2 separate regions of the Homo sapiens genome follow, and region 1 is linked to region 2. The links come from fine-mapping of genetic effects on gene expression. A gene starts in region 2. The other region holds a variant in brackets. All regions are shown on one strand. Distances are from middle to middle. Region 1 overlaps MAP1B (microtubule associated protein 1B). Region 2 holds the start of MRPS27 (mitochondrial ribosomal protein S27).

What was found. PIP is the estimated chance that this variant, and not a neighbour inherited with it, causes the effect. A credible set is the group of variants that fine-mapping cannot tell apart.
Region 1: its variant is the best candidate, but not a certain one, in a credible set for the expression of MRPS27 in whole blood (TOPMed, PIP 0.54).

The regions. Positions count from the first base shown.
Region 1 is chr5:72,186,561-72,198,635 of GRCh38, reverse strand. MAP1B (microtubule associated protein 1B) reads right to left here. Exons shown (of 7, transcript NM_005909.5): 4 at 11,882-12,022; 5 at 1-4,770. Among named protein-coding and RNA genes, the nearest start is that of MIR4803, 23 kb to the right of the region's middle. RefSeq lists an enhancer at 3,653-3,742. The variant A/T (reference allele first, on the strand shown) is at 5,288.
Region 2 is chr5:72,313,382-72,325,456 of GRCh38, reverse strand. MRPS27 (mitochondrial ribosomal protein S27) reads left to right here and starts at 5,217. Exons shown (of 11, transcript NM_015084.3): 1 at 5,217-5,308; 2 at 11,299-11,376. The coding sequence starts at 5,236. It overlaps PTCD2 (pentatricopeptide repeat domain 2), which reads right to left and starts at 5,084. Exons shown (of 10, transcript NM_024754.5): 1 at 4,948-5,084; 2 at 3,193-3,285. The coding sequence starts at 5,074. It also overlaps the pseudogene RN7SL153P. RefSeq lists enhancers at 4,886-5,095, 5,156-5,485, 5,084-5,624, 5,625-6,166.

The sequences.
Region 1 (12,075 bases), 130 kb after region 2:
GGACATATCTCTGGGAGGAGCAACATCGGATAGAGTATCTTCTTGGAGAGGAGAAGCGATCTGAGAAGGGGTATGAGCAGAAGAGGTGGACGGGGAGGCCTCTACCTGAGATACTGAGATGAGCTCAGAAAGATCATTATCTTGGGTGTAGGACGGCTCCTCCATAGGTGGTATCTTATGTGATAAACTGGAGTCCTGCATGTCAGAAGGACTGTAGTCCACTTCAGTTGGCCCATTTTCAGTGATGTGAAGCACGCCTGCACCCACTGTAGGGTGATCTGGAGACTGTCGACTGAAGTCCATAGCAAGGGATTGCTCAGGAGATTCTTGGCCAAATTCAATAGACATTGAGGACTGTTCAGATCTGTGATCTTGAACGGGTGTCCTGGACTTTGCAGTTTTAGGGGAGAAATCTGGTGGAGAAATTGACATCGGTCTTGGGCATTCTTCTTTAGATGGAGACATTTCTGTTTCCTGGAATGTGGTAGGTGTTTGCACAACAGACACTGAAAGGGAGTCATCTACTTCTGTGGAATGTGGGGAGCCAACCTCAGCATGCAGAGATGGAGACACATCATCTGTTGTTGGCTCTGGAAATGAGCTCGTAGCCACTGAGGCTGTGGACACTGAGGCCACACCCTCCATATGAGAGTACGTGTCTTCTGCTACGCCCTCATCAACAGGAGTAGCTGACTTGTCTGAGACAGTACCTTCAGAAATGGACATCTTAGTGTCTTCTTTAAAAGATCCAAACTGACTGACATCTATTTGTGTGGGAGAAACATCTCCTAATTTCCTTTCATCCAGAGCCAGTGCTGGTTGAGAACTCATGGCTTCAACATCATCAGTTTTCTTTTCTTGGCCAAAGTCTTCTTTTATTGGTGCAAAGTCTGTGCTTTTCCCTTCCTGTTTGTCTTGGTAAAGACTAGTAGAAGTCATTTCAGAAACTGGACTTACTTGGTCTGGAGAGCCTTGTTTTCCACTCTTTTCTTCAAAAGGACTTTCGGCACCTCTGCCAGAAGCCTTGTCATCAGCACTTAGAAAACTTTCATAAGCAGACTCGGATCCAATGAGGGGCGGGCTGCGTAAAGGAGACAAAACTTTTTCAATAGGAGACTCTGAGTCAGGCACGGGCTCATCCATGGGGCTTACTGAAGCCCTTTCATTCTCATCTTTGGCATCACTGAATTCAAAACTCACTGGAACTGCTGGTGGTTTTTCAATGACTTCTGTAGGGAGATGACTGGATTTCTCGTCAGTAGGAGATTGATAGTAAGGTGTGTGACCAGCACTGCCAGTCACGGACTGAGATGGTGACACCACTTCCAGAGTCTTGTCCTCAGGACTAGCACAATGTTCTTCAACTACTTCTTGGGTCACCTCAGGAGACACCGGGGCTACTTCTGCCTCTGCAGAGACTTTAATCTCATTGGGCGTCAGAGAGAAGTTCACACTACGTTCACCCAGGGGGGTCTTTTCTAAGGGTGATGGTGGAGATGGACTCAGGGACGGGCTCTTCGATGGGCTGACCTTTTCACTTGAAACAGCTGAGATGCTATCTTTGATGTCCAAAGTGGTGCTGGCTTTCACTTCAGAGCAGTAAGCATCACGTAAAGCAGATCTGCTGAATTTGTCTTCCTCCATGGAAGAGGGTGGTGATATGGTAGAGGCTGAAGCATTGTAATCCTTGCCATCAGTGGCATCTGTTTTTGATCCTTCAGAAAATCCGTTGAGCGGTGTAACATCAGCAGGTTTAGAGTATTCCTGAGAATACAATGAAGATTCATATTTGGTGATATTTACGAATTCCTGAGAAGGGGACTCCGTCTCTTCATTGTTGGTCTCATCACTCATCACGTCTCGAGGGGTAGACATCTCATCCATGGGGGTGGGCTCACTGGATATCTCAATAGTAGACTGAGTGTAGCCAGAGGTGGCAGTGAATTCCTCAGGCTGGTCTTCTCGATTCTCCTCATCAGAAGCGGTGGCCTCGCTCTCTGAGCCTCCAGGTAAAGTCTCATCATGAATTGAAGATGCAGGTTCTCGGCCAGGAGACTGGGCTCCTAGTTGCTTGGTTGGTGTGGTGAGGAATCCATACTGCTCCTCGGCACCACCAGCCTCTGCAGCCTTGTCGACCACAGCCATCACATAGTCTTCAGCTTCCATTTTTTCCGGCTCATATTCCTCCTCTCTGGCATCTTCAGCTTTGTCCTCCTCATCAGCCTCCTCTTCAGATTGTTCAGCCTCTCCTTTCTCAATGGCCTCATCCATGTCTTCTTCGGCTCGGTCATCCCCACTGGCCACAGACTCCCTCTTCTCCCTGATGTATGCATCAGCCTCCGCCTTGGCACTTTCCTCATCCTCAGTGGGGCTGTGCTTGGAGGCGCTCACACATACGTGTTCCTCCCCATCCTCTTCTGGCTCCTCAGCCTCCTCAGTTTCTGCCTTCTCTTCATAGTCTCCAGTCTCTGAAGATTCTTCAAAACCGGCTCCTTCATCTTCAAATTTTTCAATGTCGTCTACTCCCTGCTTCTCGACGGGCTCCAGCTCCTCAGGTGTCTGTTCACATTCGCCCTCCCCTTCAGTGGTAGTGATTCCCTCATCAGGGGACTCGGCAGGACCTTTGGTGACTTCTCTCTCCTTCTGGATGACGTAGGCTTCGACTGGCTCAGTTTCCTTCAGTTTCTCTTCGTCTTCGATTAGCTCCAGCTGAGGCTTGATGTCCTTTGTTACATCGACCTCTTCAGCCTTTAACTCTTCAAAGTCCTTGGTTAGATCCTCAGGAGATGACATAAGGGACCTCTCAGCTTCGAGTTCTTTGGCAGGGCCAATGGCTGCTATTCCAGCTGCCGCCATGACAGCTGCTGTGGTGGCTCCAGTGCCGACAGCTGCAGCGACAGCCTCTGCGGCCTTGCCTTCCTTCTTAATGACTTTTATTTTCCCCTTCTCCTTTGGCTTTCCGGCAGCAACAGAATCTTTCTTGACAGACTCTTCCTTCTTGGGTACTTTTGGTTTTAAAGCAGCTGGTTTTTTTGCTTCAGACAGAGGAGTAGATGATTTCTTTGCGTCTTTAGGGAGCTTCTTAATTTCTTTTTTGGGTTCCTTTTCTTCCTTTTTCACTTCCTTCTTCTCTTCCTTCTTAACTTCCTTCTTGACTTCCTTTGGCGGTGTTTCTTTCTTAACCTCTTTCTTGGGTTCTTTTTTCTCTTCTTTCTTGATCTCTTTTTTGACTTCTTTTTTCACCTCTTCCTTTTTTGGTTTTTCCTCCTTCTTGATAGGTGTTTTGTCCTCCTTTTTAGCCACTTCTTTCTTTGGCTTTTCTTTCTCCTCTTTCTTGTCTTCAGGCTTTACCTTTGTTTCCTTTTTCACCGTCTTCTCCTTGGCAGCTTTGGGTTTGACATCTGTGGCTTGCTTCTCAGCCACCTCGGCTTTCACTGGAGATGGCTCTTCTTTGCTGGGAACCTCCTTTTCAGTCACTGAAGGTTTGGTCTCTGTTTTTATTGGCTTGTCTTTTTTCACCATTACCTTTTCTTTGCTTTCAACTTTGGGTGGCTTTTCCACGTGATTCACTTTTGTGACCTCAGGGGTTTCTTCTTTTGACTCCTTGCGCACGGATTTGCTAGGAAGTGGTTTTGCGGCTGGCTTCAGACTTTCTCGGCTATCAGCCCTCTGTTTCAGTTTTGTTTGTTTCACCACAGGAGTGGGCACCTGGCCAGTGAGATCCTTTTGGGTGGCCAGTGGCTGCTTCAGAAAGTCTAGATGTTTGAGCTTTTCCAACCCTTCCAGGATGTTGTACTGGGTGCTGTTCCCAGGAAACAGGACTCGGATGATTTTCTCCGCAGGGTTTGCTGGATGCCACACAATCAAAGATGAGACTGAAGTTAAGTAGGAAATCGGGAGATCTACTTCTTGACCATTAGGCAGAATGAATTCAGCCTTGTCTTTGTTGGTACCAGTCCACTGCTGCATAAAATACTGCATTTCCTTGCTGCTCTTGACTGGATTAAGCACATACATCTCAAGTTTACCTACTCCCATTTTTTGGAAAAGAATGACAGGATCAATAGTATTGCCTACACTTCTAAACAGAGGTTCTGGTTTCATGGACAATTTGTTTAGGTACTGGAGAGTGAAGCAGGCTTCTTCTATGCTTCTCTTCATCTTGATGTTTGGCTCTGGATTTTTGAGATTTTCAGGTACATTGAGAAATACAACTCCTAAGTCAGGGGAGATGAGGTTTTTCATCCAGTCACTATTTGTGGTGGAGCCCTGGGACTGTTCTTCCTCGAGCTCTGCAATTTTCCGCTGTAACATGCTGTTTATTCCAGGCAAATTGTCATCCCCAATGTGGGTGAGCAGGATGGAGTCCACTCGGTCTAAGTGTCGGATGAGCTTCCAGAAGCAGGATTTTCTCTCTGATCCGCCATTGATGAGCATATTGAAACCATTCACTGCAAACAAGGCAGAATCGCCCCTCCCTCCTGGAAAAATATAACAGCAGGGCTTGGAGAGCTTCAGAAATCCACCCGATGTGGGAGGTTCCAAGATGTCAAAGGGAGATGGGACTTCCACTGATTCTGAGAGATACTCGGTAAACTCAGAAAGTCCTTCCATTTCTGGCAAGATAGAAGCTGAATTGAGTTTAATATTGATGAAGTCTTGGAGATTGTGTCTGTCAAGATTGGAGTTCTTCCAGTCCCCTTCTTCAGGACAGAACAGGGTTAAGCTGGCTTTGTTGGCAGGATGGGTGGTGCTTAGTAACTCCCCGATCTGGGTTTTAAAGAAAGAAAGAAAGAAAGAAAAGGTGTAAGTGATTATCATCACTGATCCATCATCTCCAGCTATAACTATGTGTTACAGGATCACAGGATGCACATAGGACCAGTTTCAGACATGCACTCTCATAGTGATGTTGGTTGCTTAAATGCTGAAATACTTCCCTACTGGAAGGTGAACAGCCTTTGTCCTGAGCCCCGCTGCTACTGGCTTCTACCTCAACCAGTACCCACTCGCCCTGGCACCTCCCCAACAACCCCTCCACCATCTATTCCTGCCCAGCAGGGGAATGCCAGTACTCTGCTCCAGTTCTAACACCAGTGACCACCTGGGCAACTGAGGATTGTGCTGCAGTGGTTATGAAACACTTTGAATATTACCCCTAGAATAAAGGCAAAGATGCCCTTTAAAAAAAAACGTTAAACTATCACAAGAGAAAGCTGTCTGGGTCATTTCACCACTAATAAAAAATATTTTCTTTTATTCCACTAGACTTGGCAAAAAAAAAAAA[A/T]AAAAAGGCCTGATGGATACCTTAAAGAAATTCAGATTAACAGGGCACTTGTTGTGGCCTCCTTTCAGGATCTGGCATGTAAAAAAGAAAAAACCTTGGTGGGTTTTTCCCCATAGGAGACAAGAAGTTACGGATTGCCTATTACTACAAAAAATTACTGGTTTCTGGCATCAGTGCACGCTGATTGAAACATGAGTGGGTCACCCAGCATATTCTCTGCAGATACAAATACTTTTTTATTAAAGCCATGACATTAAAGTGGTTTGGCCAAGTTCGTTCCCCATTTGCTCATGTTTAACTCCACAGTGAGCCACTCTGTTCTCTTACTGCTCCCATTCTTTTCAGGGCAAGTTGGGTGTGAGCAGCTAAGATCAAATGTGGCTGAAACATTTTTCAACACATTGTTTAGTACTTCCCAAGGATGTAAACATAGAAAAGCAAATCAGGACCAAAACAGAAATTGTGGTTTAATAAAAACACTACTTGTCTCTCTCACTCCATATTATGGCCATATATTTCATGGTCTTAGCCTAGCAAATTAGTGATGGAGAATCATGCCATCAACTCCAATATTCTTTCCGTCTCAGTAAAGCTCACAAATCAGCTCAGAGTTTCGACTGAAAAGGGCTCTGTATTCTGGATGACAAATGATCAAGGGGTAAAGCCAAGGTTTCATTTGGTCCAGGCATCCCTGAGCCAGCAGGTCTGAACTCTTACCTTCTAGTATTAGATTAGTTTCCTCTATCTCCTGACTATCAGCATTCTGAGGCTACTATTATGAATGTGTGTAAGAATAATTTATAGAATCTGAGTTTTCCTATATTCGACTGCAATATTGCAGTAAAATAGTCATTTTTGTTTTGTTAGCATATTAGTCCTAAGCATAACATTTTATGTAAAGGGCCGCAAAATAACAAAATAATAAAACTTTGCTGTTTTTCTGTGACTTCACAATTTTCTGTAAAAAGGATAAGAATCAACTCCTGTTTTTGGGAGCTAAGAAAAGTGAAAAAGCAAATGGTAATACCATCTTTGGGTAGAGGGGACAGGCATCTTTGCTCAAATGATTTGCTGGCCAAAGCAAACATAGGGCATCAAATATGGTTTTTTGTACAATAGTTAGCAGAGACTCTCATCACAATCACTATAGCACAATTAAAAGTCTCTAGATCCCAATTTTCACACAAAGCACATGCAAACTATTCATGTTTTATAATATGTTTTAGGGGGCAAATCTAGAATAACTGCTGTATCTTTAATAGTGAAACTTAAAAATTAAGTTTAGTTCATTTTAATTTTTGAAATTCCACCCTAGCTGAGAGGTGTGGCAGCCAAGGGTATAATCCAGCTGTGAGTAGGGGGCATTCAATCACTGGCTCTTTTTATGTAAAGTATGTAATTACCAGGTTGAAGCAGAAGGTAGAAAGACTTAAGGAATATCTTCCTACTTTCCGTCTTTTCACCTCTATCCAGAGAATTTCTATGAAATGCAGGAAATGACCCCAAAACAAAACAAGATTGCACAGAATTCTGAGAAGTCAGAGGTCATGAAAGATAGCCAAGAGACACTGGTGAATGAACAACCGTGATGTACAAGGCAAAGCAGAAAAGAAAGCCAGCATTGCTTTGACAGGTTTCTTTCCAGAGAAGGAAAATCTGGTCCCTCTGAAGAAACAGCAGCACATTCTGAATGATGAGACAAGAATGCAGAGACAGGGCTGGACAGAGCCCTCAGTCATAAAACAGACAGATGGAATTGGGCAGAGGGAGGAGGAGGAAGAACAACTCCTACATCCTTGGAACTACACAACAGAATGAAGCCCGTGTTTTCCCCCACAGCCTCTTTCCAGACCTGTGGGCCAACAAGCACAGTAGAGAGTGCCTCAAGGGCAAAGACAGGGTCTTAAGAGTGGCCAGCCCACGGCAGCACCTGACCAAGCTTATTCAATGAATAGATGAGAACCATAAGGAGGATCCAACAATGTTAGCAGTGGCAAGGAAGCTTGTGACTAGTTCTTAGACTTGGAAACTGAGGCTTCTTCTGAACAAATTGGGAAATCATCACCATGATAAATGGTAACTATTATAACCCACTACTCTAAACATTTCTGATAGCAGGAAATATATCTTCTGTATCTTTGTATCTTAGTTATCTTTGTTTCCTCAATACATAATCAGGCTCAGTAGATGTTTGTTGATCTGTGTGCCAAACTTGGCCAGTTCAACACATGTTATCTTCCTGGAGTGGGTACTTCAGATGTAACCACACTGAGTGCTACCCTGGTTCTTACAAAGTTGGATGACAGATGCAACAAGGAGGAATATGCTTTGGGACAAAGATAATCTTTTTTGTTAATTACTTTTTCTGATTAAATGCAGGCATACTGGAAGAGGAAGGAAGATGTAAGAAATAAATGGTTTTACTGCAGATGAGATTAATGAAACAAGATTTGAATTTCTAAACCATGGCCTACGAACTACATTTCCTTTTTGATTAGGTTACTTGCTTGGCTGATGAGGAAATACAGTAGACAGTGTATCTCTGGGTTTTAGCCAGACATTTAATAGGACCCCTGAACAGTGTGATAGTAGAATTAGGTGGATTTCCAGCCAGCCATATAAATAGTGCTGCTTAATGTCAACCTGGAGGGAGGTCTATGATGGGCTGCCTCAAGTCTCATTTTCTGGCCTGTATTCACTTGGATAAAAATGGCGAAGGCATGCATATCATATTTGTGCATGGTATGAAAATGGGAGACACAGCAAAATGTGGAATGGCAGAATTAAGGTATTTATAAAAGCTCTTGACATTGGGATGATGGTGGCTAAGTCAATTCTAACAGGATGGCATTCTAAAGGGATAAATGTAAGGTTCAATAAACCAGCAGGGTAAACTACAGGATTGGGAGATGTGGCTTAACAATAATATCCATGGAAAAGACTCAGGGATTTTAGTTGACAGTCAAATGGATTTATCATGAAGCCAAAGAAGCTTAAACTTCAAGGTACCTCATTGGCATGGCCCTGTACTTAACTGTATATTAATAATTGTTTCATTTTTCTTAAAAAAGAGCCCTTAAATTATATAAATTGTCGAGCCCCTCAAAGCCTGCATCTCTTCCCCATTGACTTCCCCATTGACCATTAATGGTGTATGGTGATGGTCAAAAGTCACTTTTAGACTTCTTTAATAGAAGATGGTATTGAAAACTATAGACATTATCAACTCTCACAATCCTAACCTGGTCAAATGACTCCTGAATAGGGTGTCCAGTTTGAGTCATGACATTTTAGAGAAATTAGACCAACAAGCAAAAACCTGAAACAAGTCTCCCTTACTGGCTCCTTCCTCTTGGCCTTATGACCTGTCAACACTGGACCTGGGCCCTTTCTCTTCTTAAAATGTTTCTCACTCTAGGTCACATCATGTGTCTTCTGGGCTTCAAATACCTCTAATATGCTAATGGATTTCAAATTAGTATCTCCAGCCCGACTCTGAGTTCCCTGAGCTCTGTTCTCATAAATCCAACTGTCTGATTTCAAGGCACTAAAACATGACCAGGACTAAACTCCTGAATTCCCCCCATACCCATCCCATCTCCTCTTCTTTTTATTTTATTTTTTTAATGTTTTAAGTATAGTTTTTTTTTTTTTAAGAGACAGAATCTTGCTCTGTTGCCCAGGTTGGAGTGCAGTGCAGATTATAACTGAGTGCAACCTAGAACTCCTAGCCGCACGTGATCCTCCCACTCTGGCCTCCCAAAGTACTGGGATTACAGGCATGGGCCATAGCACCTGGCCTTCACCTCCCTTTCTTGACAGAGGAACAAGTTTGAAGGACAGTGAGCAGGGTTATGAAGAACTGTGGGTAAAACTGAAGATGATTAATCTGAAAGGGAAAAAATCGGCAGTGTTGGTGAAGGGTAACTAAGACACTGTAGGTGGGAAAGGGATCACATCACTTCCTTGAAGATACAATGAGACAAATAAGGAAAAACTTTCCAACACAGAGACTGAAAAATGTCCCCAGGAGATGATGATTTCACCATCCCTGGATTTCAGGGAGGAGTGGGGTTAGCCAGACAATTGTACCGTCTGTTAGTTCTGGTTTTGTTAATTGATCTCCAGTGATTAAGACTCCAAAACCTGAAGCTCAAAGTGTACTGATAGTTCTATTTTTTCAGTCCATTTATTTTTAGCTGTTCTTATATTTTTTAAAAAGTATCATTTTTGTTTGTCCCAAATTGTGGTTTTGGTTTCCCTGGAGTTAACTAGTATGTTTCAAGGACTGGATAAAAGGAAAAGAGCTGGACAACAAGTGGTCTTCAAGGTCCGTTTGTTATTCAGTTACTCAACCATTTTTCCAAGGCAACAATGGGCAATCCTAGCTCCAAAAGGCTGATAACCACTGGTCCAGTCCAGTGGTTTTCAATTCACTTTAGCTGTGGCATCCTTTCTTTGTGGGTGGCAGAAGAGAATATGACATGGTCTCTGACCATAATGATACCTGCCTGAGTATAATCAAAATATGTGTCCTCCAGAACCTACCCCAATAAGTATAAACCCTGGGGAATCTGCCCTTCCACGGAACTCGAGTTCTTCAGTTAGGGCAAATTTTTTTTTCTGTAATTAGTGGCAAAATCTGACACGTGCACAGTCCATGGTGCTAAAATTTTGCTTCCATAATCTAGTAAAAATGATTAAGCAGCAATATTCATAACAACCTTATTTAAAGAAGGGGAAGGAGGGATATTATTTGAGATGCAAATATGCCAAATCGTGTTACTTCCTTATTGAAAATCTTGGCAATGACACTTTTCTTTACATATTTCCTTTGTCTGGTTTTTCGGCAAAAAAGACAAACCAATGACTTGGGTAGAAACCAACCACTAGAAAATAACTACAGAACTGCACAGGAATGTGGAAAGTGCCCATGTGCATGCAAATGAGCTATAAGCAGGCCACTTAACTGCTCACCATGTCATTGGGCCACTTCCAGCCTTCTGCAGCTTTCTCTCTTCCCTGAGGCAAGATGCTAATAATGTGTGTGACCCCAGAGCTACTAGACAAATGCCCACCTGCCTCCGGGTACAACATGCACATGGGGACATAATCTTGCAAAACATTCTGACATTATAGTGATCAAACAACAACTTCAGGACAGTAGGCAGAGTGAGAATTGTAGCCCTAGCTTTGGAATTTCAATGCAATTGAACAGCGGCTTACTAGGCCTTTACTATGTGCAGGTGCAATGGATACCGAGATGAATGAGGCAAGATGCGTGAACTCTAGCGGCCTTGGAAGAAGACACAGCCAAAGCTTGCATTTTGAAGTGGTAAAGATGAACCAACTGTGAGTGAGCTCTGAAGCCTCTGAGAAAGGAGCTGCCTGCCTGGGGGATCCCATCCTGGTATGTGTTTCAAGATGCAGATGACGCCACACCTTCTGACAGCTGTGGCTTCAAAAATGTTCCTTTTCACAGTTTTACATTCTCCCCACCCCAGTGGCTGGAGAGTGAACATTATTATGCCTTCTGATCAGTGTTTTTAAAGAAGCCTCCAGGTGACTCAGATGAAGTTGGGCAGTGTGCTTACAGTTCTTGCCAGTGATGAAAAGTACAAACAGAGCTTTCTCTGAACCTCAGGGCCAAGGAAAATTAAGTGCAGAAGGACACGTGGCCCTTCACAGTACACATGAGACAGACAAGCCACCACCTCAGAAAGACAGTTTTAAACAGATGTGGGGACTCTTCTTATCAGAACATCCCTCAGTCCCTCCATGTAGAAATCTGCTATCGGCCACAGGCAGGCCCCAACCTGCTATGGGGATGGGTCTGAATTGTTTCTGTAATTGCTATAAACATGTAAGCTAGATAAACAAGGTGCATTACTTTGGAAAGTTTCCCAGCCAGGATAAATTCCCAAGCAGAAATAAGCATATCAAAATCTTTGATCTCATTTTACAAAATACGACTAACTTCACACAGTTTTCAACACTTTATATGTGTCATCTTTGAATAAGATACGCATTAGAAATATGAATGATCCAGCTTCAGTCCAGCTACTTTAGCCATCTTTTTCTTGGGTCACAGACGTGCCCCATTTTCCTACGTGGCTCCTTTTGTAAAGCCCTCTCTCTTTTGTGGGCTGTTCAAACAGCCCAAGTTCAAACACTGGGGCCAGGCATTAAAGTAAAAGAAATCTGAAATAATTAGGCCTGGAAAACGAGGTGCCAAAAGCCCCAGATATCTTTGGAGTATTATTTCAGAAAACAGGAAACGCAGGTTTTCTTTTGGGCTCTGACATTTCAAGTTTCTCCATCATTTTTACCATCTGTAAAGTGTTGACTGTTCCAACCCCTCCCATCTATATCTCAGGCACATTAAGAATGATTCCAATTAATTGTAAATGAGTGCTCTAAATTCTTTTGGCAATGAGCCATAGAAATAAAGTATTTTGGATCATGCAGTTTTGCTTATTTCAGGAGAGCTGTGAGGTTCCCTCCCTTCTTCTTTTGTCTCCCCCAGTGCTCTCAAAGAGGAACCTAAGGCAACCAAGCCACTAGAAGCACAGATATTCTCAGACACGAACCTACCTCTTGATCGGTGAAAATCTCTATGAAGTTCTGGAAGGAGAAAGAGCCGGACTGGAGAATGAGCTCTCCGGTATTTTCAAAGCACTGCCCGGTCAGCACGAGCAGCTTGTGTCGGGCAGCATCAGTGATCATTAAGCGCACCTGAAATAAAGCACAGAACGTAGGCCCTGAGCCATGGGCAGTGCTGCCATCCC
Region 2 (12,075 bases):
TACCTTCCTCACAGGGTTACCTGAGATGATATATGTAAAGCATTTGTCATTCGGTAACTGCCAGTAAATAGAAACATTATTGTTCTCATTTTCATTCCTTGTGTCACCTGTTAGATCTAAGAGGATTTAGTCTATTAAATATTTCTAAGCAACTTCCAGTCTAAAAAGTCTCAAGTCATCAAAGAGATGACGTTACATCTTGTACTCCTTAATCCTCCTTAATAAACCTTAAGAGGCCGGGTGCAGTGGCTCAGGCCTGTAATCCCAGCACTTTGGGAGGCCAAGGTGGGTGGATCACTTGAGGTCAGTAGTTTGAAACCAGCCTCGCCACCATGGTGAAACCCCGTCTCTACCAAAAATACAAAAAGTAGCCAGGTGTGGTGGTGCACGCCTGTAATCCCAGCTACTAGGGAGGCTGAGGCACAAGAATTGCTTGAACCTGGGAGGCAGAGGTTGCAATGAGCCGAGATCATGCCACTGTACTCCAGCCTAGGTGACAGAGCAAGACTCTGTCTCAGAAAAAAAAAAAACAACACCTTAAGAATCCAGTATTTCAACAGATATAACTTGTGTTTTAAAACAAATCAATCAACATTTGTTTATCATATAATCATACTCGGAAGTATCCTTCTTTGTGTGTGAGACACCAAGAAGCGTAAGGAATAGTTCCTGCCCTCAAAGAACTTAAAAGCATTTTGGGGAGGGCAAGCTAAATTTATACAAAGCTACCTGAAAACAATGATGGAGGAGGTGACACATGAATACTATAAACATAATAAGACTCTTCTGTCCTGTTACGACACCTATTACAACTCAGAGTGGACAGAAGAGTCCTGTTACAACCTTTACTATTATGACTCAGAACAGACCAGGTTGGTGAAAGTGGAGGGGTACCAGTGAGAAAGGAAAGGGCTGAAATCAGGTTGGAGAAATGGAGGAGGGGGATATTCTAGGTAAGGAAATCAGCATGAGCAACAGAACAGAACTGGGAATGACAGGTGTGGAGGGAAAAGCTGTGACTAGATCAACCAGAAACCGTCCTAGAAAGGGCGGAGTCCATCACGGGAGAGCCAGGATGCCAGAGAGATGAGTATGTTAATAGTGTGGTATACAACAGAGTACCACTGTGGGCTCTCAAAATGATGAAAGGTTGACAGGACTTTAAACATATCAGTCTGACAATAGAGCAGATTGGCACTGATTATATTAATTGCCTTTCAGAACATGTACACAACTGCCACAGACTTATGAAGACTATGACAACTGGAAATCACAACTGGATGACATGAAGCCCTAACTGCAAACCTCACATAGATCTAAAATACCTGGGTAGAAAGAAAAGACTGAAGTGAAATCTAGATTGAGCCTACTCAACTGGGGATAAATATATTCCCCCCATTCCAAAGGTTTATTTTTTTGCCCCCTATATGGTATTATATAACAGTATGATTAGCGGAGCAGCGAGAGAACATTGATTTCTGGAGGACTGAATTGTGAGGGAATGGAGGCAGAAAGTATCAGGATGGGTGCAGTGGCTCACGCTTGTACTTTAGGAGACTGAGGCGGGATACTAGCTTGAGCCTGGGAGTTCGAGACCAGCCTCAACACAGTGAGACCATCTCTACAAAAAAAAATTAAAAATTAAAAATTAGGCGGTATGGTGGCACTGTAGTCCTAGTTACTCAGGAGGCTAAAGCAGGATTGCTTGAATCCAAGAGTTTGAGGCTGCAGCGAGCTATGATGGTGCCAACTGCACTCCAGCCTAGGTGACAGAGCGAGACTGTCTCTTAAAAAACAAACCAAAACAAAGAGAATGTTAATGTGTTAATCAGGAGCTCACAAACATCTGGCAGTGAGAGGAAGGAGAGCTGGGTCTATGGTTGAAAAAGTCAGTAGGGACACCAAGAGTTATTAAAAAAAAAAGGAAAGTCTTAGATGTGTTCATAAAGGAGGATCAAGGAGGTATATCCACAACCCCCAGGGACCACTGCTGCATCCACACACAATAAAAGGTATGAAATGCTGGGAAGAACTCTATGTGCAGGAGGGAGAGAATGAATGCACAAGATTTTTCAGGTGCTGAAAGGGAAAAAGACCTAGGGTGGTGTTCTTGTTTGTAGCTTTTTATAACAAAAATTTTCAAACATACCCAAGAAATGAAAGAACAGGATAATAATCCCCCTCACTAAGTGCCATTACCCAGCCTCAATCATTATCAATATTTTGCTAATTATGTTTCCTCTACACTACAATCCTCAAACACACTGGATTTTTTTTCAAAGCAAATCCCAGATTTATCTTTTTTTTGAGACAGGGTCTCACTCTGTTACACAGGTTGGAGTGCAGTGGTGTGATCATGGCTTACTGCACCTTAGACCTCCCAGGCTCAAGCAATCCTCCCACCTCAGTCCCTGGAGTAGCTGTGACTACAGGCATGCACCACCACGCCCAACTAACTTTAAAAAAATTTGTAGAGATGAGGTCTACGCTGCTCAGGCTGATCTCAAACTCCCTGGCTCAAGCAATCCTCCTGCCTTGGCCTCCCAAAGTGCTGGAGTTACAGGCATGAGCCATCATGCCCAGCCAAATCCTAGGTTTGGTAGTCAGGTTTCTCTTGTTTTTTAAGAAATTTTTGATCCTACTGACTTTTCTAGCACAGAGTGAAAAATACCAAATGTATCATCACACATAGTACTGTTTTGTTTCATTTGATTTCATTTATATATAGATATGTTTGTGTGTACTGAGATGCAACATAAAATGCATTTTTCACTGAAGGTTACATCAAAAAGTTTGAAAGCCAATCATCTGAAGTTTTTAAACTTTATTGTGCATATGAATGATCTGGGGCCTTTCTCTCTGCACTTCTATCAACCACCCAATAGATGCTGATGCCGCTGGTCCTCAAACCTCACTTTTAATGGCACAGATTTAGACAAGACCAATCGCAGCACTAGCTTTAATACTTCTCTGGGATCGTAAGAGAAGGAATAAGAGGAGAGCTGTAGACGTTGTAGCAGCAAAGTATGAAATGCAAGATAAATATAAGAGTTCACTATGAAACTAACAATAAATGGTCTCAACTTTTTCTAAGGCATAATAAAGTCACTGAAGGAGACACTGAATAGGGATAAAGACAGAGAAACTTAAATGACAGATAAATGACAGAATTAACAAAATAGATTCTATTACCTTTAGTGCCAGAAAGATTACATGCAACAGCCACTTTCTTTTGTTGAAATTCTTTTAATTTCACCACATTATCTGTAAGTAGGTATCTTTTAGCTAAAAATCAGAGAAAGAAAAAAGTAAAGTCATTTTGACTGTTTTAGAAGTTAGCAAATAACATGAATAGAGCTGGATTACCTCTAACATCTATTATAGATAATCCATTAGACAGGTACAAATATAACTGTACAAACTGTACAAATATAAATCCTGGGAAAAACAATTTCTGAACTACCAGAGAATGCAAATCCTCAGCAAAACAGGTTTTATTTGTGTGTGTGAAAGAAGCTAGTGATTAACCGTAGCTAGTGATAAACCTGTGTGGGGACTGGTTGACAGGAAGTTGGGATTTGAAGTACAAATGGGCATTTGCCATCGGTTAAGGGTATCAAGGGCATTTAAAAAAAAAACTAATAACATTTAAATGCAAAACAGGCATATTTAGTTTTGGTTTATCCAGGGAGAAGCACAGTGTAGTGGAAAAAGCTGCAGCATGACCACTGGAACTCCCAGTTTTGTCCTCTGTGAAATGAGGGGGTTAAGGCCTCTCAGATGTGGACTCAAAATACATTTGAGATACATGGAAATCATTGATCACAGCTTAGTAGATTTGGGAAACATCATCCTTTCTTTAGGATCCTTGGCTGTGCATGAGATAAAACGGACCAAGCGTGGCCGAAGAATCACGCACTAACAGAGTTCTGTGAGCTGCAGTAACAAGGTAACAATAAAAGTTGCTATTTATTTACAGAAAGGCAGTCCAGTGAAGTGGTTAGGAGCAGGTTTCTATTGTTGGGTGTGTTCAAATCCCACCTCTAACAGTTCCCTCTGACTTTGGGCAAATTACTTAACCTTGTTCCTCCTCTGTAAATGGAGAAAAGAATGGTACTTCTCTTGCTGGGTGTTGTCTAGAGAAAAGGAATTAATGTATGTAAACTACATTAAAGTAATGCCTGACAAACATTTTTACTATCACTCACTAGCATCTTCAGATTTAACTCTCTTCATAGAGATGTTAGAGGATAGTTTTGAAAAATGAAGAAACGTGCCGTTAAGTCTTTTAGATTGTTAGCAGAACTGAGACTCCATAAGACCTCTGCTTCCAAACTCTGCAGAAAAGAAAAAGGCCGGGCGCGGTGGCTCACTCCTATAATCCCAGCACTTTGGGAGGCCGAGGCGGGTGGACCACGAGGTCAGGAGTTCGAAACCAGCCTGGCCAACATAGTGAAACCCGTCTCTACTAAAAATACAAAAAATTACCCGGGCGTGGTGGCGCACGCCTGTAGTCCCAACTACTCGGAAAGCTGAGGCAGGAGAATCGCTTGAACCCGGGAGGCGGAGGCTGCAGTGAGCCGAGATCGCGCCACCGCACTCCAGCTTGGGCGACAGAGCAAGACTTCGTCTCAAAAATAAATAAATAAATAAATAAAAGTCACCCAAGGCGGGAGGGATGTTCCTGAAGACGAACGTCGCCCCATCTGAGGGAGCACTACAGCCCCAAGGTCAATACCCCAGCAGTCCTTCGATTTGCAGGCACTGGGGGTATCCACGACCCCCAGTGGTCACCACTGCACCCACGTGCAACTAGAGGGCGAGGGTGCGCTCCAGGCCAGTGAGTGACTTAGGAGCTGTGGCTGCTCCACAGAGATGCTAGCTGGGATCTAACACTCCCTTCTCTCCCATCCCTCCCCTCCTTCCCTAGGCTAAAGCCGCGGATACCTCCGAGAGGGCAGCGGCAGCTGACAGAGCCGGAGCCTCCCACCCCAGGATACACCAAAATCTGCAGCGCCTGCAGGAGAACTCGATTCGAGGGCCGAAATGCAGCAGCCATACTGTCTCGGACCATACCAACTACTGGAACCGGGGCGAGGAGGCGGAGCGTCGGTCCTGTCGTCGAGAGCGACAAAAGGGATTCGTCCAATTCTGGGCGCCCCGAGAGGTCGAGCTGTAACCCCGCCCCTTCCTCTGTCCGTAACCCGTTGGCTGTTCCTTTTGGTACGCTCCAAGATGGCTGCCTCCATAGTGCGGCGCGGGATGCTCCTGGCGCGGCAAGTGGTTCTTCCTCAGCTCTCTCCTGCAGGTTGGCCGGACAGCTTCATTAGGCCCCTGATTATTCTGTTTTTTGGGTGAAGGGAGCGGTGGGCTTTCAAGAGGAGAGGAAACGTTTCTGGAATCTGATTGCTAGGGACGCCATTTGGGGTGTTTGGTAGTGCAGAAGAAGGAGACAAGGTATCTGATCCATTTCCTTCCCTAAAATAACAGTATGTTCCTGTCCAAAGGTACGAAGAGCAGTGGAAGGTTATATAGCATGAGGGAATTTGCGTATGATTCGCCAGATTTATGTGTTGGGGTGGTCGTGCTTTTGCTGACCACGAAAAACCCAAATGTGCGCCGGGCGCGGTGGCCCACGCCTGTGGTCCCAGCACTTTGGGAACGCGAGGCGGGCGGATCGCCAGGAGTTCGAGACCAGCCTGGCCAACAGGGCGAAACCCCATCTCTACTAAAAAATACAAAGAAATTATCTGGGCCTGGTGGCGCGCGCCTGTAATCCCAGCTACTCGGGGGGCTGAGGCAGGATAATCGCTTGAACTCGGGAGGCGGAGGTTGCAGTGAGCAGAGATCGCGCCACTACACTCCAGCCTGGGCAACAGAGCGAGACCCTGTCTCAAAAAAAAAAAAAAAAAAAAAAAAGGAAAAACCTAAATGTGTCCATTCCTGGGGCTGGGACATTTTTCTCCCATCTGAGGTTTCTTTAGAGGGACGTCAGATAAACATTTTTCCCACCACCACACATTTAGCTGGACCCCTGGTCTTCGTGGAAGAATTTTTCAGTATTAATCTCATTTTATCTGATGACCTAGAGCACAACTTTTGATTGACCTTTCTTTGCTATAGTTTTCCACGTGTAGATAATAAATGCTATTAGTTACTTGTAAAATACTTTGATATCTGAACTAAATGGCAGCCCACTCAAAGCCTGCATAGTGGATCTGATAATGAAAACATTGGAAAAAAGTTTTAAAGTATTTATAGAAGCCAAATTTGCAGTGATTCTAACCACATAATCCAGACAGACATATTTGATAAAAATGCAATAATCACACTCGATTTTTCCATTGCCGCTTATCTTCCCTTTCCAACCTACCTCCCATCCTCTATTTTTTTAAAAAGCACGCACTTCTTTAGGAACAGCCATTAAACGTCAATGTGAAACCTCAGAGTTGGCCACCAGTTTTCTGAAGATTAAGTGGCTGACCTGGTGAAAACGTTTAATGTCACACATTAGGCAGTGTTATGCACAACGCTTGACACCTTAGTAAGAATTAGCTGTTGTAGCTATTTTCTGTTTATGTGGTTTCCGTGAACAACTACACACAGAGGGCATTTTGGGAGACCTGTCTTTCCCCACAATCACCTCCCCAGCCTTTTTTTTTTTTTTCGGGTTTCGTTCTTGTTGCCCAGGTTAGAGTGCAATGGCACGATCTCGGCTTACTGCAGCCTCTGCCTCCCGGGTTCAAGTGATTCTCCTGCCTCAGCCTCCCGAGTAGCTGAGATTACAGGCATGCGCCACCACTCCCGGCTAATTTTGTATTTTCAGTAGAGACGGGGTTTCTCCATGTTGGTCAGGCTGGTCTCTAACTCCTGACCTCAGGTGATCCACCCGCCTCTACTTCCCAAGGTGCTGGGATTACGGGCGTGAGCCACTGTGCCCAGCTGGCCCAGCTTTTTAATCTCCCAGTTCAGAACTCTTGAGCAATGATCTAGATATTGTCCTGACTCCAGAATGTAGAAAGGTGATTACTTATGCTAGAATGAAGCATATGCTAGAATGAAGGCATAGAGAATAACAGATAATAAATAGAGAGTAAGCAAGTAGCTGGTATGCGGGAGTACAGTTGGCTTCCTTATCCGAGCATTCTGCATCTGCAGAGTCAACCAACAGCGGATCAAAATACTACAAAACAAAACAAAAACTAACAATAAAAAATAATACAACAGTAAAATAATACAAAGAAAATACAACATGACAACCACTTACATTGCGTTTACATTGTGTTAGGTATTATAAGTAATCTACAAATGACTTAAAGCAGCTTGTCCAACCCTCAGCCCAGGACAGTTTTGAATGTGGCCCAACACAAATTTGTAAACTTAACTAAAATATTAGGAGATTTTTAGCATTTTTTGTTTTGTTTGTTTGCCCATCAGCTATCATTAGTGTTAGTGTAGTTTATGTATGTGTGGCCCAAGACAATTGTTCTTCTTCCAATGTGACCAGGGAAGCCAAAAAAATGGACACCCCAGCTTAAAGTAATGCAGGAGGATGTTTGTGGGTTATTTGCAAATACTGTGCAATTTTATGTAAGAGACTTCTGCATTCTCAGATTTTGGTATTTGAGGGGGTATTCTAGAACCATCCCCCTGGGGCAGGAGAATTGCTTGAACCCTGGAGGCAAAGGTTGCAGTGAGCCAAGATCATGCCACTACACTCCAGCCTGGGCAACAGAGAGATACTCCATCTCAAAAAAATAATAATAATAAATAAAATTAGGCCGGGTGTGGTGGCTCACACCTGTAATCCCAGCACTTTGGGAGGCTGAGGTGGGTGGATCACCTGAGGTCAGGAGTTTGAGACCAGCCTGGCCAACATGGAGAAACCCTGTCTCTATTAAAAATACAAAATTAGGCGTGGTGGCGCATGCCTGAAATCCCAGCTACTCAGGAGGCTGAGGCAGGAGAATCGCTTGAACCTGGAAGGCCTCCGCCTTCCGGTTGCAGTGAGCTGAGATCATGCCATTGCACTCCAGCCTGGGCAACAAGAGCGAAACTCCATTTCCAAAACGAAAAAATAAATGGAAATTAATTTAAATAATTATAGTCTTTTCTTAGTTCTCCTTTTGAAAGCGTCTTTGGAAACCTTATTGTTGCCTCATTATTTAATTTGTAGAACTCAAATTTAGATATATTATTCTAGTAAAGATCTGTGTTCACAGTAAGAGAATGAACTGTGTATAAATTCACACAGATGTGTTTGTATTTGTTTATTTGTTTGAGCTGGAAAGTAGGTAGAGAATAAAAACAGCATTCCAATACTGTGTTTAATCAGCCCCCATGCTATCTAGTTGTGTTGGGCTTTTGGTCTGCTGTGACCTCAGCATAATTATCTGTCATTTTTTCTGTTTGTTTTTTTTTTTTTTTGAGACGGAGTTTCGCTCTTATTGCCCAGGTTGGAATGCAATGGCGTGATCTCGGCTCACCACAACCTCCACCTCCTGGCTTCAAGGGATTCTCTTGCCTCAGCCTCCCAAGTACCTGGGATTACAGGCATGCACCACCACGCCTGGCTAATTTTGTATTTTTAGTAGAGGCAAGGTTTCTCCATGTTGGTCAGGCTCGCCTCGAACTCCCGACCTCAGGTGATCCGCCCACCTCGGCCTCCCAAAGTGCTGGGATTACAGGCATGAGCCACTGCACCTGGCTGTTTTTCTATTTTTTTAAACAGAGTTATTGAGGTATAATTCACATGCCATACAATTCATCCATTTAAAATACACAATTCAGGCCAGGCATGGTGGCTCACGCCTGTAATCCCAGCACTTTGGGAGGCCAAGGCTGGGGGATCTCCTAAGGTAGGAGTTCGAGACCAGCCTGGCTATTATGGTGAAACCCCGTCTCTACTAAAAATACAAAAAATTATCCAAGCATGGTGGCAGGCGCCTGTAATCCCAGCTACTCTGGAGGCTGAGGCAGGAGAATTACCTGAACCTGGGAGGTGGAAATTGCAGTGAGCCAAGATCACACCATTGCACTCCAGCCTGGGCAACGAGCAAAACTCCATCTCAAAAACAAACAAAGAAACAACAAATGCAGTATACAATTCAAAGGTTTTAGTATAAACACAGAGTTCTGGAGCCATCATCACAAGCTATTTTAGGACATTTTCATTATCCCAAAAAGAAATTCCATGCCCATTTGCAATTGCTCCCCATTTCTCCTCTAGCTTTCCTGATCCTCACCTTTAGCCCTTAGCAACCATGAATCTACTTTCTGTCTCTACAGACTTGCCTATTCTGGATTGCTCATATAATGGAATCATATAATATGTGGTCTTTTGTGACTGGCGTCTTTTTTACTTAACATGTTTTCAGGATTCACCCATGTAGTATGTATCAGTACTTCATTTTTTATTGCCAAATACTATTCCATTGTAAGGATAGACCACATTTTGTTTATTCATCAATTGATGGATATTTGGGTTGTTTCCACTTTTTGTCCGTTATGAATAATACTACTGTGAACATTTGTTTACAAATTTTCTGTGGACACAAGTTTTCATTTTTCTTGGTTGTAAACCTAGGAGTGGAATTGCTGGGTGATAGAGTAACTCCATGTTAACATTTTGAGGAGCTACCAAATTCTTTAAAAAGCAGCTGCACTGTTTTATGTTCTCTCCAGTAAGGTATGAGTTTCTGGTTTCTCTGCATCCTCCCCAGCAGTTGTCATTATCTGTTTTTTGATGGTGGTCATTGTAGTGAGTATCATTCGTTTCTCCAGGTGATTTTGTTTTGCATTTCTCTAATGGCAAATTATGTTAAGCATCTGTCCTTATGATTATTAGCTATTTGTGTGTGTATACATATATATTTTACTTTTTCTTTTTTTTTTTTTTTCGAAACAGAGTCTCACTCTGTTGCCCAGGCTGGAGTGCAGTGGCATGATCTTGACTTACTGCAACCTCTGCCTCCCGGGCTCAGTCGATTCTCCCACCTCAGCCTCCTGAGTAGTTGGGACTACAGGTGCATGCCACCATGGCTGGCTAATTTTTGTGTTTTTTGTAGAAACGGGGTTTCACCATGTTTCCCAGGCTGGTCTTGAACTCCTGAGCTTAAGTGATCCACCCACCTCAGTGTATATATGTTTTTAAAGGTATACCTGTTTAAATCCTTTACCCATCATTCATTTGGGTTGTCTTTTTTTTTATTTTTGAGTTGTAAGATTTATTGAAATATTTTGGATACAAGTCTTGTACTAGATAAATGTTTTGCAAATATTTTCTCCTGTTCTTTGGGTTGTACTTTCACTTTCCTGAGATTGTACTTCAAAGCACAAAAGTTTTAAATTTTGATGAACTTGCCATTCATTCTTTCTCATTCACTCCTTGAGCTCATGTTTGTTAAACACTGCCAAAGGCTAGGCATTGTGCCAGGAGCTAGGAATAGTGGTATGCTATCTTGTACGTTACCTCAGCTTTGGCTTTGTGAGTTTCTTTAATTTACCACTAGGGTGCTGGCTCATTGGGTAAGATACTACTCCTTGCTTTATGTGAAATGATTGAAACCTGTGGATCTAAGATGAAAATGTTTTTTAGGCATAATAATTATAAAGCATTTAATTAATGAGTTAAGCAACAGTCAGCAGGTGTTTTTGGTTCTAAGAAGGTGTTCTAGGGCTTGCCTGGATTATAATTTACTAGCAACAAGTGGCTCCTAGTCTTAAAGTTATAGGAACAAAATTAGCAGTTTTATCCATAAAATTATGGGCATAGCGCAGTGGTATGTGTCTGTAATGCTAACTACTTGGGAGGCTGAGGCAGGAGGATCACCCAGGAGTTCTGGGCTGTAGTGCACAATACCGATCAAGTGTCCACACTAAGTTTGGCATCGATAGGATGATTGACGTTCCAGGAGCAGGGAACTACCAGGTTGCTTCAGGAAGGGTGAACCAGGTTGGAAACTGAGCACATCAAAATTCCTGTGCCGATCAGTAGTGGGATTGTGCCTGTGAATAGCTACTGCATTCCAGCCTGGGCATTATAGCAAGACCCTGTTTATTTTATTTAAAAAATTATTGTGAAAATCCTGTTTTTCTGCATCTTCACTTGTTAGGGGTTGAATGCATTTTGTTCTTCACTGAATTGTCAACTATGCGATATTGGTTGCTGTACTGTATTAGATTATTTAAAATATATAATCTAGTAGTTGAAAGGATAGTGAAGATATATTTAATAAAACATATAAAATGAACCTCTTGTAAAACCATGTGTGTTGAAATAATTGCCTATTTTCTCAGGTAAAAGATACCTGCTTTCTTCAGCCTATGTAGACAGCCACAAATGGGAAGCAAGAGAAAAAGAACATTACTGTCTTGGTAGGTACCTATTGGACTATTATATGTGTCATTTTCGGTCACTCTGTATGTCTTCCATCATTTATTCATATAACGTATATATGAAATTATGCTTTTATGATGTTTCAATTCAGATAAGCATGTTTTAAGTCTTAAAGAGTTAGACTTTTATACATGGCAAAATCAGTTTTATCCTGTTCATTTCTAATATTTCATTTTTGCCTCCATGATTAGTCTCCTTAGAATATGTAAACAGTTCCTTTCTTCTGTTTTTTGTCCATTTTTACCATATGGTTTTCATGCAGCCTGTTTTACAGAATTTCGTATTTTATATTTCATCCTGTCTTATTGTCAGTCTCTTTATTTTCTTAACTCCTCTTGTGGTCTTCAGAGCCCTTTTTGACTCTTCTCTATTTCATTACCAGGTGACAGGTTTGAAGGCAATGTTACAATCTCATGTAAGCTGTTTAGAGAAATAGTTGGTTAACATCTTCCCAGGCTTTGGGCTTATAATTATACTTTCTTTTCTCCTGTTCCCTATGTCATATTACACAGACAACAGCCTTTCTTTTGTAAAATACCAAGCCCCAAAAGAAATCACTGACTCAATGAGCAGTTTTTAAAAATGTGCATACTTTAGACTTTTGGTACTGCCTGCCCTTTGGTATATATAACATCATCGGAACATTAATAAAATAAATAGATTGGTGATAGTTTTAT